2 linked regions of the Homo sapiens genome follow. The protein of the gene in region 1 purifies or fractionates together with the protein of each later gene. This does not show direct contact. Each region holds a gene or a part of one and is shown on either strand. Other genes may lie near its edges.

Region 1 (5,546 bases):
CTCATAAACAGCTACACTCTAACCTTACTGACCTTCTTCTAGTTCCCAAGCTGCTCCCTCTGCCTGAAAGTCTATCCTACTCTTTCCATGGTGAGATCCTGAGTACTTTCAGGTCTCAACCTAAAGGCCACCTTCTCAGAGACGCCCAGGCTTGATCACCCCACCCAGGGTAAGTCTCCAACCCGCCCACCAGCTGCTTTCCTTTGCGGCACTCTGTTCTTCTGCAACCTAGCCTTAGCACCTGCTGCATTCATGTACATGCTCATTCAGTCGTCTACTGTCCCTCTCCCTCCTAGACAGCAGGCTCTGGGGAGCAAGGGCCACCAATGTTTTGTTCTCCTTTGTGTCCCCGGTGCCTGGCACCAATCATACATATCTGCTGGTTGAATGAATGAATGAAGAACACTACTTTCTCCTTGACAAATCTAGGATTGATATGCATGAAAGAGAACAGGCATAGCTTCTCACTCTAACAAAAGAAACCAAACTGATCCTCCATCAGAAGATTGAGATGAACTTCCTACTTTATACAAAGCTTTCCATTCATAATCCAACATGTAGTGCCATCATCTGCCACTGAATCCAACGCCAACTCTGACAGTTACAGTTTCCAGACAGAGTGTCTTACATAAACCCCCCATTTACTGGGGTCAGAAACATCTCTCAGGTACAACCCAAAATGTGGTGATGACTCTCCAGTGACTCTCCAGCAGCAATGTCAATTTTGAGGAGCAAGAACCAACTAAATCCTTCCCGAGAAAGGTCACATTGTGGAGGAGAAAGAAAACAGCAGCTTCAGAGCCAGAGAGGAATGGGTTTGAGCCCCCTCCACCATCTATGACCTTGTGACTCTGGGCAGATTATTTAGCCTGAGCCTCTGAGTCTCAACCTCTCCATCTAGAAAGAGGAACAATAGTGCCTATTGCTTTGAAAAGTAAATGATAGCCGGGCATGGTGGCTCAAACCTGTAATCCCAGCATTTTGGGAGGGGGCGTATCACTTGAGGTTAGGAGTTCGAGACCAGCCTGGCCAACATGGAGAAACCCCTATCTACTAAAAATACAAAAATTAGCCAGGTGTGGTGGCTTGCATCTATAATCCCAGCTACTCAGGAGGCTGAGGCAGGAGGATCGTTTGAACCCACGAGGTGGGGGTTGCAGTGAGCCGAGATCGTCCCGCTGCACTCAAGCCTGGGCAACAGAGTGAGACTCCATCTCAAAAAATTAAAAAAAAAAAAAAAGAAAAGTAAATGAGGAAGGTATAGAAAACCATGAGCACAATGCCTGGCACCAAATGGGCTCAATAAACGTTAGTACCTCCTGGGCTCAGCAGCTCTTTCAACCAGGAGGAAATTCATGATCTCAAGATCCATGGGTTCTTGATGGGTATAGGATAAAACTCGCCAAGGAAATAAGTTCTGTGATACACAATGATAGTGTTAGCATTTGTTAAATAGGAAGAGAACTCTCAGGTTTTCTGCATTCCTCCCTGAGGGAAAGGACCGTGTCTGTCTTAGGTCCTGCAGATTCCCCAGGATCTAGAATGCACCCTGGCACACCACAAGTGTGTATGATATTAATGGATGAGTGAATGAATGAAGTCCCTAAAAGTAACATAATTTGATAGGCAATTGTTAAATTTTACACTCACAAATGGAGCCAATGTAACTCCAACACCAACAGCACATGTACCTTGTGGTTTTCTGTGTTAAACCTATGACGTCCAATAATTTCAGGGGTGATCTCCATTACATCAAAATAAAAACCTGAAATAAAACCAGGAAGAGATCAGCCGTCATTAGTCAAAAAACAAAAGATCAGCTTCTTAACAGACTTAGAACAGGACAAAATGACCCCATATCCCTGGGTCCCCTGGCTCTTTCATCCCCCAGATGAGACCTGTGAATATTCTCAGTTCCTTCTCTCCAACAGGATAGAAGGGAACCAGGGAGCCCTGAGCTAGCTTTTCTCAAAGACAACTCTTCCTGCTCTCACTTGGCAGCCTGGAATAGGAAGCAGCTGCCCAGCCAATCCTAAAATATCAAAACAGGTTTGACCAAGGGAGGCACAGACCCTCCCTGCTCAGGCCTGCCCAGACACTGGGGACTTTTCCTTGTGCCTGGGGCAGAGGCTGTGAACGGGGATGCACCAGGGTAGAGGCTGCCCTCTCTGATGCTGTCACCAGGGGCTTGGTGGGGACAGAAGACATAGCTATGGCCTGATGTTCTGCTCAGAGCAGAAGCCAAGGACAGCCTTACAGCCCCACCCTTGCTCAGAACACAGGGTTCCACACCAGCTTGTAGGATGTGTGGAATATAAGTGCAGACAGACAGGACTCCCCTGGACTTCTCCACGGCCCTCCTCTCCCCCAGCTCATGGGGCCCCAGGCTCTGCCCCTCCAGTCGGCAGCTGCTGACCCTTCACAGGCCTGGGCACCACCAACTGGCCTACCCAGGTTTCCACCGTTGCCCATCTCTGTGGACTGCAGTGCCTTAGAGAAATCGCTCCAGGAACGGGATACAGACTCGTTGCGGATCTTCTCTCTCATGAGGGAGCCATTTTTAAAGCTGCAGAAGAGGGCATAGCTCTGAGGGAGGGAGCTGGTGCTTGCTGACTGGACCCATGAGTTTCAGTGAAGAGACTCAGGCAGAGGAACTGCAGGTCAGGCTGGACCACGACCCCTAGTCAGTGCACAGCAGGCTTTGAAACTTAGGTATCGGAGGCTCTTCCTCAGATTCAGGCCCCTGAATGTCCCTGGGAGGTGCCGGAAACGCCCTTGTCTTGGGCTGTTTACACAGGAGGCTGACACAGAGGAGCCCCAGGTAGAGACAGGGAGCTTGGGTTTCTGCACATTCTACCATGGGCACAATGAGGCAGGGAGGGCTAGATTAACTAGCCACATTCTCCAATGGTTCTTAGGGCTTAGGAGCTCAGAAACCATTTCCCTCAGGAGCTTTGGACAGGTCTCCAAAGGCCTGTGGTCAGAGCACAGAGCATGTCCCTTCCATGAGAGCCGTCGGGAGGCAGGATGTCCTTCCCGCCATTTGCTGAGGGTCCACCACATGCCAGACGGGTCACAGTAACAATGTGAGGTAAATGCTCTTACCCTCCCCATCTCATGAGGAAAGTGTGGCTCAGACATGCCACACTACAGAGTTTGCCCAAGGTCACACAGGATATAGCTGGTGAGGATAGAATTTGAACCTGGGCTTGAAGGACACAGGGTCTTGGGTTATTCCCCACCCAGCTCTGCTGTCAGCAAGAGCTGGTGAGTCCTTGGGGGTCTCAGTTGCCCAGCAGAGCCCGGGAAAGTGGAGGGAGTCATTCCAGAGCTTAGTGGAATGACTTGGGGTCCTCAAGATGGTGCCAGACCTGCCCACACCTCCTCACCCAGGGAATGGTGCCAACCAACACCCAAGCTCACCACAGGAGTGCCATGTAGTGCTGGGAGTCAACCGGGTTGCAGAAGATGTGGCCTTCCAGGGCAGGCATGGGCTCTTGGAGCCAGAGAAACAGGGTGTCACTGGTGCCCAGGCTGACCTGAGGAGAGATAGGCAGAGGTGGGCACCTTGGGCTTTGCCCACACACGCTGCCCTCTGCCAGCGACGCGCTGTACTCCACCCACCTTAACCCTGTCACTTCACTCATGCTGCAGACCTCAGATGCAAGGCCACTTTCTAAGAGCCACTTCTGACCCTCCCATACCAGATGAGCCAGGAGTTAGCTCCCCAGATGCAGATCTCATGGATCTTCTGTGCTGATTTCCCACAACTGCATCTAAATAATGGTTTGGGTGATGGCTGGTTCCCCATATGACTTTCCCACTAGAAGTAGGAATGTCTGGGTTATGTCTTCCTTATTCATCTGCGCTGCTCACAGCCCTTTGGCCCCACATCTGACCCTCTGCCACTGCATGCACTAAGACTGGCCACTGTGAAGCAGGCAGGGGTCCTGCCCATCTAGCAAAGAACAATGACTTTCTGAGAAAGATGTGCGCCCCCATCCCCTCCCTCCACTGTCTTTTGGAACCGGCAGACACTCTGATAAGTAGCAGAGATCCTGCTGGGACCCAGACCCTGGGACCCTGGGATCTGGGTCTCAGCAGCACCTCTGCTACTTATCAGAGTGTGGGTGTGAGTGTGGAAACAGAAAGAGCCTATGGGTGTGGGAAGTCGCCTTACCGCAATGTCACCTTCCTCCAGTCTCATGCCTGCCAGCGACGCTGAGAATGGGAGGGGAGCTTCTGGTTAGCTGGCGGCCACATGGGAACCACAAAGCAAACCACAGGGCTCTCCAGGCAGGCGCAGAGCCCCCACCTCCAACCCCCACCCACACCCTAGGGTGGAGGCAGGAGCAGGGGAGCTGAGCGCTCAGGAGGCCCTAAGAGGAGAAGGTCATAGGGGTCACGGGGTGAAGTCTCTGTTAGCAGGGCCGCTGATTTGAGCTGTGAAGTCTCTTCCCTGAAGGGGTCCAAACATCCCTCCACTGTCAGGCACTTCCGAGAGTGCAGAGAATCAAGGAGGCCAAGACAAGACACCAAGGATATACAGCAAAGAAAGACAAAGGCAGTAATGGAAAAGAAGGGGGTGAGGTTATGTTCACTCTCTGTGCCCTGCCTTAGACACAAAGCCCACAACAGCAATCTTTTTTTTTTTTAAGAGATATATAGGTGGGGTCTCACTCTGTCACCCAGGCTGGAGTGCAGTGGCATGATCATAGCTCACGGCAGCCTAGAACTCCGGGATCACGCAATCCTCCCACCTCAGCCTCCCAAGTAGCTAAGACTACAGGTGCACACTACCACACATGGCTCACAACAGCAATCTTTATCTGCCTTGATTGCTGAAGGGCCCCAGCACTGAAGGAAGGCCTGGCACATAATAGGCACTCACTAAATGCTGAGTGAATCAACATGTGAATAAAGGTGAAATGGGAGTGAGGAACAGGTGCACTCAAACACTGCCACTGAGGTTCAATCAGCAGTGTGTGTGTCAGAAGCCTTGGATCTAGGAATCCCACCTTTGAGAACTTATCCTATAACAACAAAGAGACGAGACCGAATGTGAATCTCAACATCGTCTGCACTGCCCAAACACTGAAGCAACACCACCCTCCATCCATCAGGGACCAGTGAAATAAATGCTGGGACAACTGAGCTCTAGACAACTGTTAAAATGAGAAAGATACTGCCCAGGTTGATTAAAAGAAACAATGCTTATTTATGAGCACAGAAAGAAGACTGAAAGGACAGAAATTAATCTTTCTGATTAAGGTTAAAATTAACCTTTCTAGTTACTGTTAAATGTAACCCTAATCTGGTGGATCGTTAGAAAAAGACTTACTTTTCCTGGGGTGGGGGTGAGGTTGAGGGGTAGTAGTTAGGTTGTTATTCAGTGTAGCCCACCTGGCCTTCCTTCAGAGATCCAAGGGCCCCTCCAGGAGTGGCTTCAGGGCTACCCAGAGGAGAGGAGGAGGAAGAGAAGAGGCTAGGGAAGGAGATGAGGTGTCTGGACGAGAAACAAGTCATTGCTGCAGATCAGATGACAG
Region 2 (4,523 bases), on another chromosome or scaffold:
CTTCTAGTTGATAAGGTCAAAATCCTTGATGCCATCTTTATTTTCCTCTCATCTATCTATCCATGGAGGATCCTCTTATCCTCCACATCTCATCTATCCTCAGCTCTCTTTGCTCTTATTTAAGAACATATCCATCCCGAATTGCTGCCATCATTTTTCACCTGGGTTATTGCTATCGTAGCTTCCTCAGTCGATAGTATCTTGTCACTTCACTGTGGTGGTTTTTCCCAGTGGCCTGCAGAATGCTGAAGGGTTTCTCCTCACCACATGCTTCCCTGACCTCTGACTGGTGTATCTCCTTCCCCAGGCACACCAGCCATATTAACTGCCAACCTAGTGTGCATTTTACTTACTTATTTTGTTTATTGTTTGACTCTCGCATTAAGAATGTAATCCCTATGACAGGAGAGTTTCATGTTTTTGCTCTAACCCTAGGACCTAGAATAATTAATGATGCAGCAATAGCTCGATAAATTGAAAGAATAAATGAAAAGGATCACTTAATTTTTCCTAGAGGAAACTAGTTTGCATGGATAGTATGACTTATTCTTTAAGTTTTTTAGAGTGGCATTTCCTGGACCTGGACCTAGATTTCCTGATTTTTAGATGTTAACTTTTTATATACAGCACTGTATGCTTTTTGTGGGAAAATAGTGTTTTTTGTAAATGAATTTAAATAAATCCTTGTCTTCAAAATAAGAGGAAACTACCTATACTGAATTAGAACTATTTAAATAATGATTTGTGTGATGGCCAAAGAGTTCTTATCAGAAGTGGCAAAAACTACATACAGGTTGGCTTCCAATAACATGAGCCAGGTATTTTTCAGTAATATTTTGAAGTGTCTTTTCTTTCTAGACATGCACATGATGGTGTCCAAGCCAGAACAGTGGGTAAAGCCAATGGCTGTAGCAGGAGCCAATCAGTACACCTTTCATCTCGAGGCTACTGAGAACCCAGGGGCTTTGATTAAAGACATTCGGGAGAATGGGATGAAGGTAAGAAATCGTGATGAGAGTGTTTTGTAACATTCACTCTCAGTTGGGAAGATTTGCGGGAAACAGGAAATTTTCTCTTTTTTTGATACAGTCTTGCTCTGTCACCCAGGCTGAAGTGCAGTGGCACAGTCAGGGCCCATTGCAGGTAAAGAATACCTTACTTAAGCAGCTGTTCTTCAGCTATGATGCCAGGATTTAACTTCTTTGTCACATAGCATTTATGTATTCCACTAAAGTTTTCTGAAAGCTACTGCTTGTTGAAAATACTTACATTTAATAGTCTTGTTAACTTTTAAAAAATAAGAACAGATATTTCTACTGGGCCTGCTATGCCACAATAATATAATACAGAAGTAATTGTAAATGTGATATAGCATATTTGTGTCTGTTACAGGTTGGCCTTGCCATCAAACCAGGAACCTCAGTTGAGTATTTGGCACCATGGGCTAATCAGATAGATATGGCCTTGGTTATGACAGTGGAACCGGGGTTTGGAGGGCAGAAATTCATGGAAGATATGATGCCAAAGGTAAAAGAAGTATTTGATTTTGGGGTGAGGCTTTTACAGTGTGTTCATTCAGTAAGCATTTATTGAAAGGCTTGTATATTTAGGCATAACCTGTTCTGAAGGTGAGGAGATGGGGATGCTTACAGATCATTCTAATACAGTATAATAAATGCTGTAATAGATTTCTGATTTGGAAATCAGAGAAGTATTACATCTTTATCTTGAAATTTTCTCTTTCTTTGAGACAAAGTCTTGCTCTGTCACCTGGGCTGGAATGCAGTAATTCAATTAGGGTTCATTGCAGCCTTGACCTCCTGGACTCAAGAGATCCTCCTGCCTCGGCCCCCTGAGTAGCTAGGACTACAGGTGCATACCACCATGCCCGGCTAATTCTTACACATTTTAGTAGAGAGGAGGTCTCACTACGTACCCAGGCTGGTCTTGAACTCCTGGGCTTAAGCTGTCCTCCCACCTTGGTCTGCCAAAGTGTTGGGATTACAGGTGGCAGCCAACCACGCCTGGAAGTCTTGAAATTTCCTTTTGAAACTATTATCTCTAACTTTTAGATCTCTTGGAAGTTGTCATTGACTATTGAGGATTTGTCTGTCTTGTTTACATGACAGTCTCTGCAAAGACAATACAGATTGCTGTTTGCCAAATAGAACAAAGCTTGCTATTAAAAACCAAGTGTTCCCCAGTAATATGTTGTATTGGTATAGTTATTGTGTGAGACAATTGGAGTTTTAATTGCTAATATTTGCTGTTGGATTTTTTTGTTTGATTGTCCCCCACCCCCACCCCCACCAACATACCCACTTTAGGAGTTACTTATTTCCTCATGTATATATCTAGGTTCACTGGTTGAGGACCCAGTTCCCATCTTTGGATATAGAGGTCGATGGTGGAGTAGGTCCTGACACTGTCCATAAATGTGCAGAGGTGAGATTGCTCTTCAACTATGACTAGACCAATTTCCCGTCAAATATGTCTCCAGGACATTGTCTCATGGGCCAGCGATTCCCTCTGTGGTTCCTAAGTTGACTTTCTTTCTTGGAAAAGTATTTTTTGTTCACATGTACAACTAGGAAAATAAACAGCCATAAGTGGATATGCTTTTTTTTTTTTTTTTTTTTTTTCTTTTTCTGAGACAGTCTCTCTTTGTGGCCCAGATTGGAGTGCAGTGGCGTGATCTCTGCTCACTGCAATCTCTGCCTGCCGGGTTCAAGCGATTCTCCTGCCTCAGCCTCCTGAGTAGCTGGGATTACAGGTACCTGCCACCATGCTTGGCTAATTTTTTTATTTTTAGTAGAGACAGGGTTTCACTATGTTGGCCAGGCTGGTCTCAAACTCCTGACCTCAAGTGACCTGCCTGCCTCGGCCTCCCAAAGTGTTGGGATTACAGATGTGAGCCATGGCGTCTGGCCCGTAAGTGGATATTCTAAAATCACATAAATTGTTAAAATTGTAAATCCTGGTTTTCTCAGGAAGGCTGAAGAAAGTTCTTTTTTATAAAAGAATATGTTGAATTTCAGCCCTTTGGAAGATCATTAAGTTTCACGGCCTTGGAAGTGAGAAATTTTTCCAAAATACGGAATTAAAAGGTACTACCAAGGGGGGAAAATAGATAAATCTAATTGACCTAATTATTACATTATTCTTTAGAACCTACATATTATTTAGTTGTTCCTTGTAAGAACTTGCTAGAACCATTTTTGATGAAAATCTAGGCCTGATACCTCTTTGGCTATCTGTATAGAAGTAAAAACTTTTTTTTACTTTTTTTTTTTTTTCAGATAGCTAGTCTAGCATAGTCAGGCTCCTGAGGATGCCAGCCCTTCTGGTAGCACTGCAAGTGATTAAAGCTTACATGACTGCTTTTCTTCCACAGTGTGATGTATCTACTTCCAGGTTCTTGTATAACTGCCACACGTTTCTGCTTGATATATACCTATCAAAAGCTTGACAGTAGTAAATACTTATGCAGGAGGGGCTGGCCAGATGATGAGTGAGCTCATATCCTTTTGATCGCTTGTGGAATTGCTTTGTACTAAACTGTGCTTTGCCAGTATACTATTCCTGCTTTTATGCCAGAGGTAGCAAATTTTTTGTGTGAAAAATCAGACCTTGGCGATGACCTTAAACAGCAGGATATGAAGAACTCCCACAAGCTTAGCGTTCCAATAATGGAACACTAGGCATAAATGGGTTAACTGAAGAGAATATTTGCAGTGTTAACCCTATAAAACTCACCTTTATAATTTCTGTGAGGAATATTGTTAGAAATGTTGTCATACATGAAGTGACACTATCTGTCTGGAAAAATTTTCCTCAGCCTGTGGTTCTCCCACTTCTCCCTCTTTGTTCTAGCAATGAATCACAAAACAGATTGGGTTTCCATCCTTGAATCAGATCCTAGGAAGATCAGAGTTAAATTTGGACCCAATTTTTTAGCTTTTCTTTTTCAATTTCTTTGCTTCCATATTTAAATGTATCTTAAAAACTTTTTTAAAGCCACTTCAAAACCATTCTGAAATGCAATGAAGTATAAAGAGACATTCTATTTTTTGACACAAAAACGAGAACTCACTTAATTTTGCCGTAGTTTATGGATAATTTTACATTTTTAGCAATAATTGTCCTTTCACACTCACAAATTCATATAAATATAATTCAAAGAATAAAAGTGTTTTTTTAGTAACTGTAGAGGCATTGGTGCATATTGGGAAAAACCTTAGTGGACTTGAGGAGTAAAGGCTTTTAAACCTTATCTAAAGGTCGCAAAGATACCATGTAGATTATTAAGAGTTGGTTTACCAGAAAGGTCAATGATTTCTTAGACACATTTAAAAATAGTCTGACATCCTCATCTGTGAACATTTTAAATTTTTCTTATTGAACTAGATTGCTTAAGTCTGCTTAATCTCAAAGTGGCTCTCATATGATTGAAATGTTGACAGATGCAAGGGTAGACACTCTAGTCCAGGAATTCTGTTTTAGGTTTTTCTACATTTTCCTTT

The links. Proteins that work in one complex are often made in the same cells at the same time.
Region 2: the proteins of XYLB (region 1) and RPE fractionate together in Homo sapiens (co-fractionation; one large-scale study listed by BioGRID). This does not show direct contact.

Annotation. Positions count from the first base shown.
Region 1 is NC_000003.12:38,373,137-38,378,682, reverse strand, and holds part of XYLB (xylulose kinase), read right to left. Parts: intron 4,222-5,546; coding exon 4,181-4,221; intron 3,540-4,180; coding exon 3,424-3,539; intron 2,567-3,423; coding exon 2,451-2,566; exon of another isoform or gene 2,417-2,450; intron 1,766-2,416; coding exon 1,692-1,765; intron 1-1,691. UniProt on the Homo sapiens protein: Phosphorylates D-xylulose to produce D-xylulose 5-phosphate, a molecule that may play an important role in the regulation of glucose metabolism and lipogenesis.
Region 2 is NC_000002.12:210,015,115-210,019,637, forward strand, and holds part of RPE (ribulose-phosphate 3-epimerase), read left to right. Parts: intron 1-858; coding exon 859-998; intron 999-1,089; coding exon of another isoform or gene 1,090-1,143; intron 1,144-1,392; coding exon 1,393-1,527; intron 1,528-2,358; coding exon 2,359-2,445; intron 2,446-2,675; coding exon of another isoform or gene 2,676-2,773; intron 2,774-3,038; coding exon of another isoform or gene 3,039-3,104; exon of another isoform or gene 3,105-3,107; intron 3,108-4,523. UniProt on the Homo sapiens protein: Catalyzes the reversible epimerization of D-ribulose 5-phosphate to D-xylulose 5-phosphate.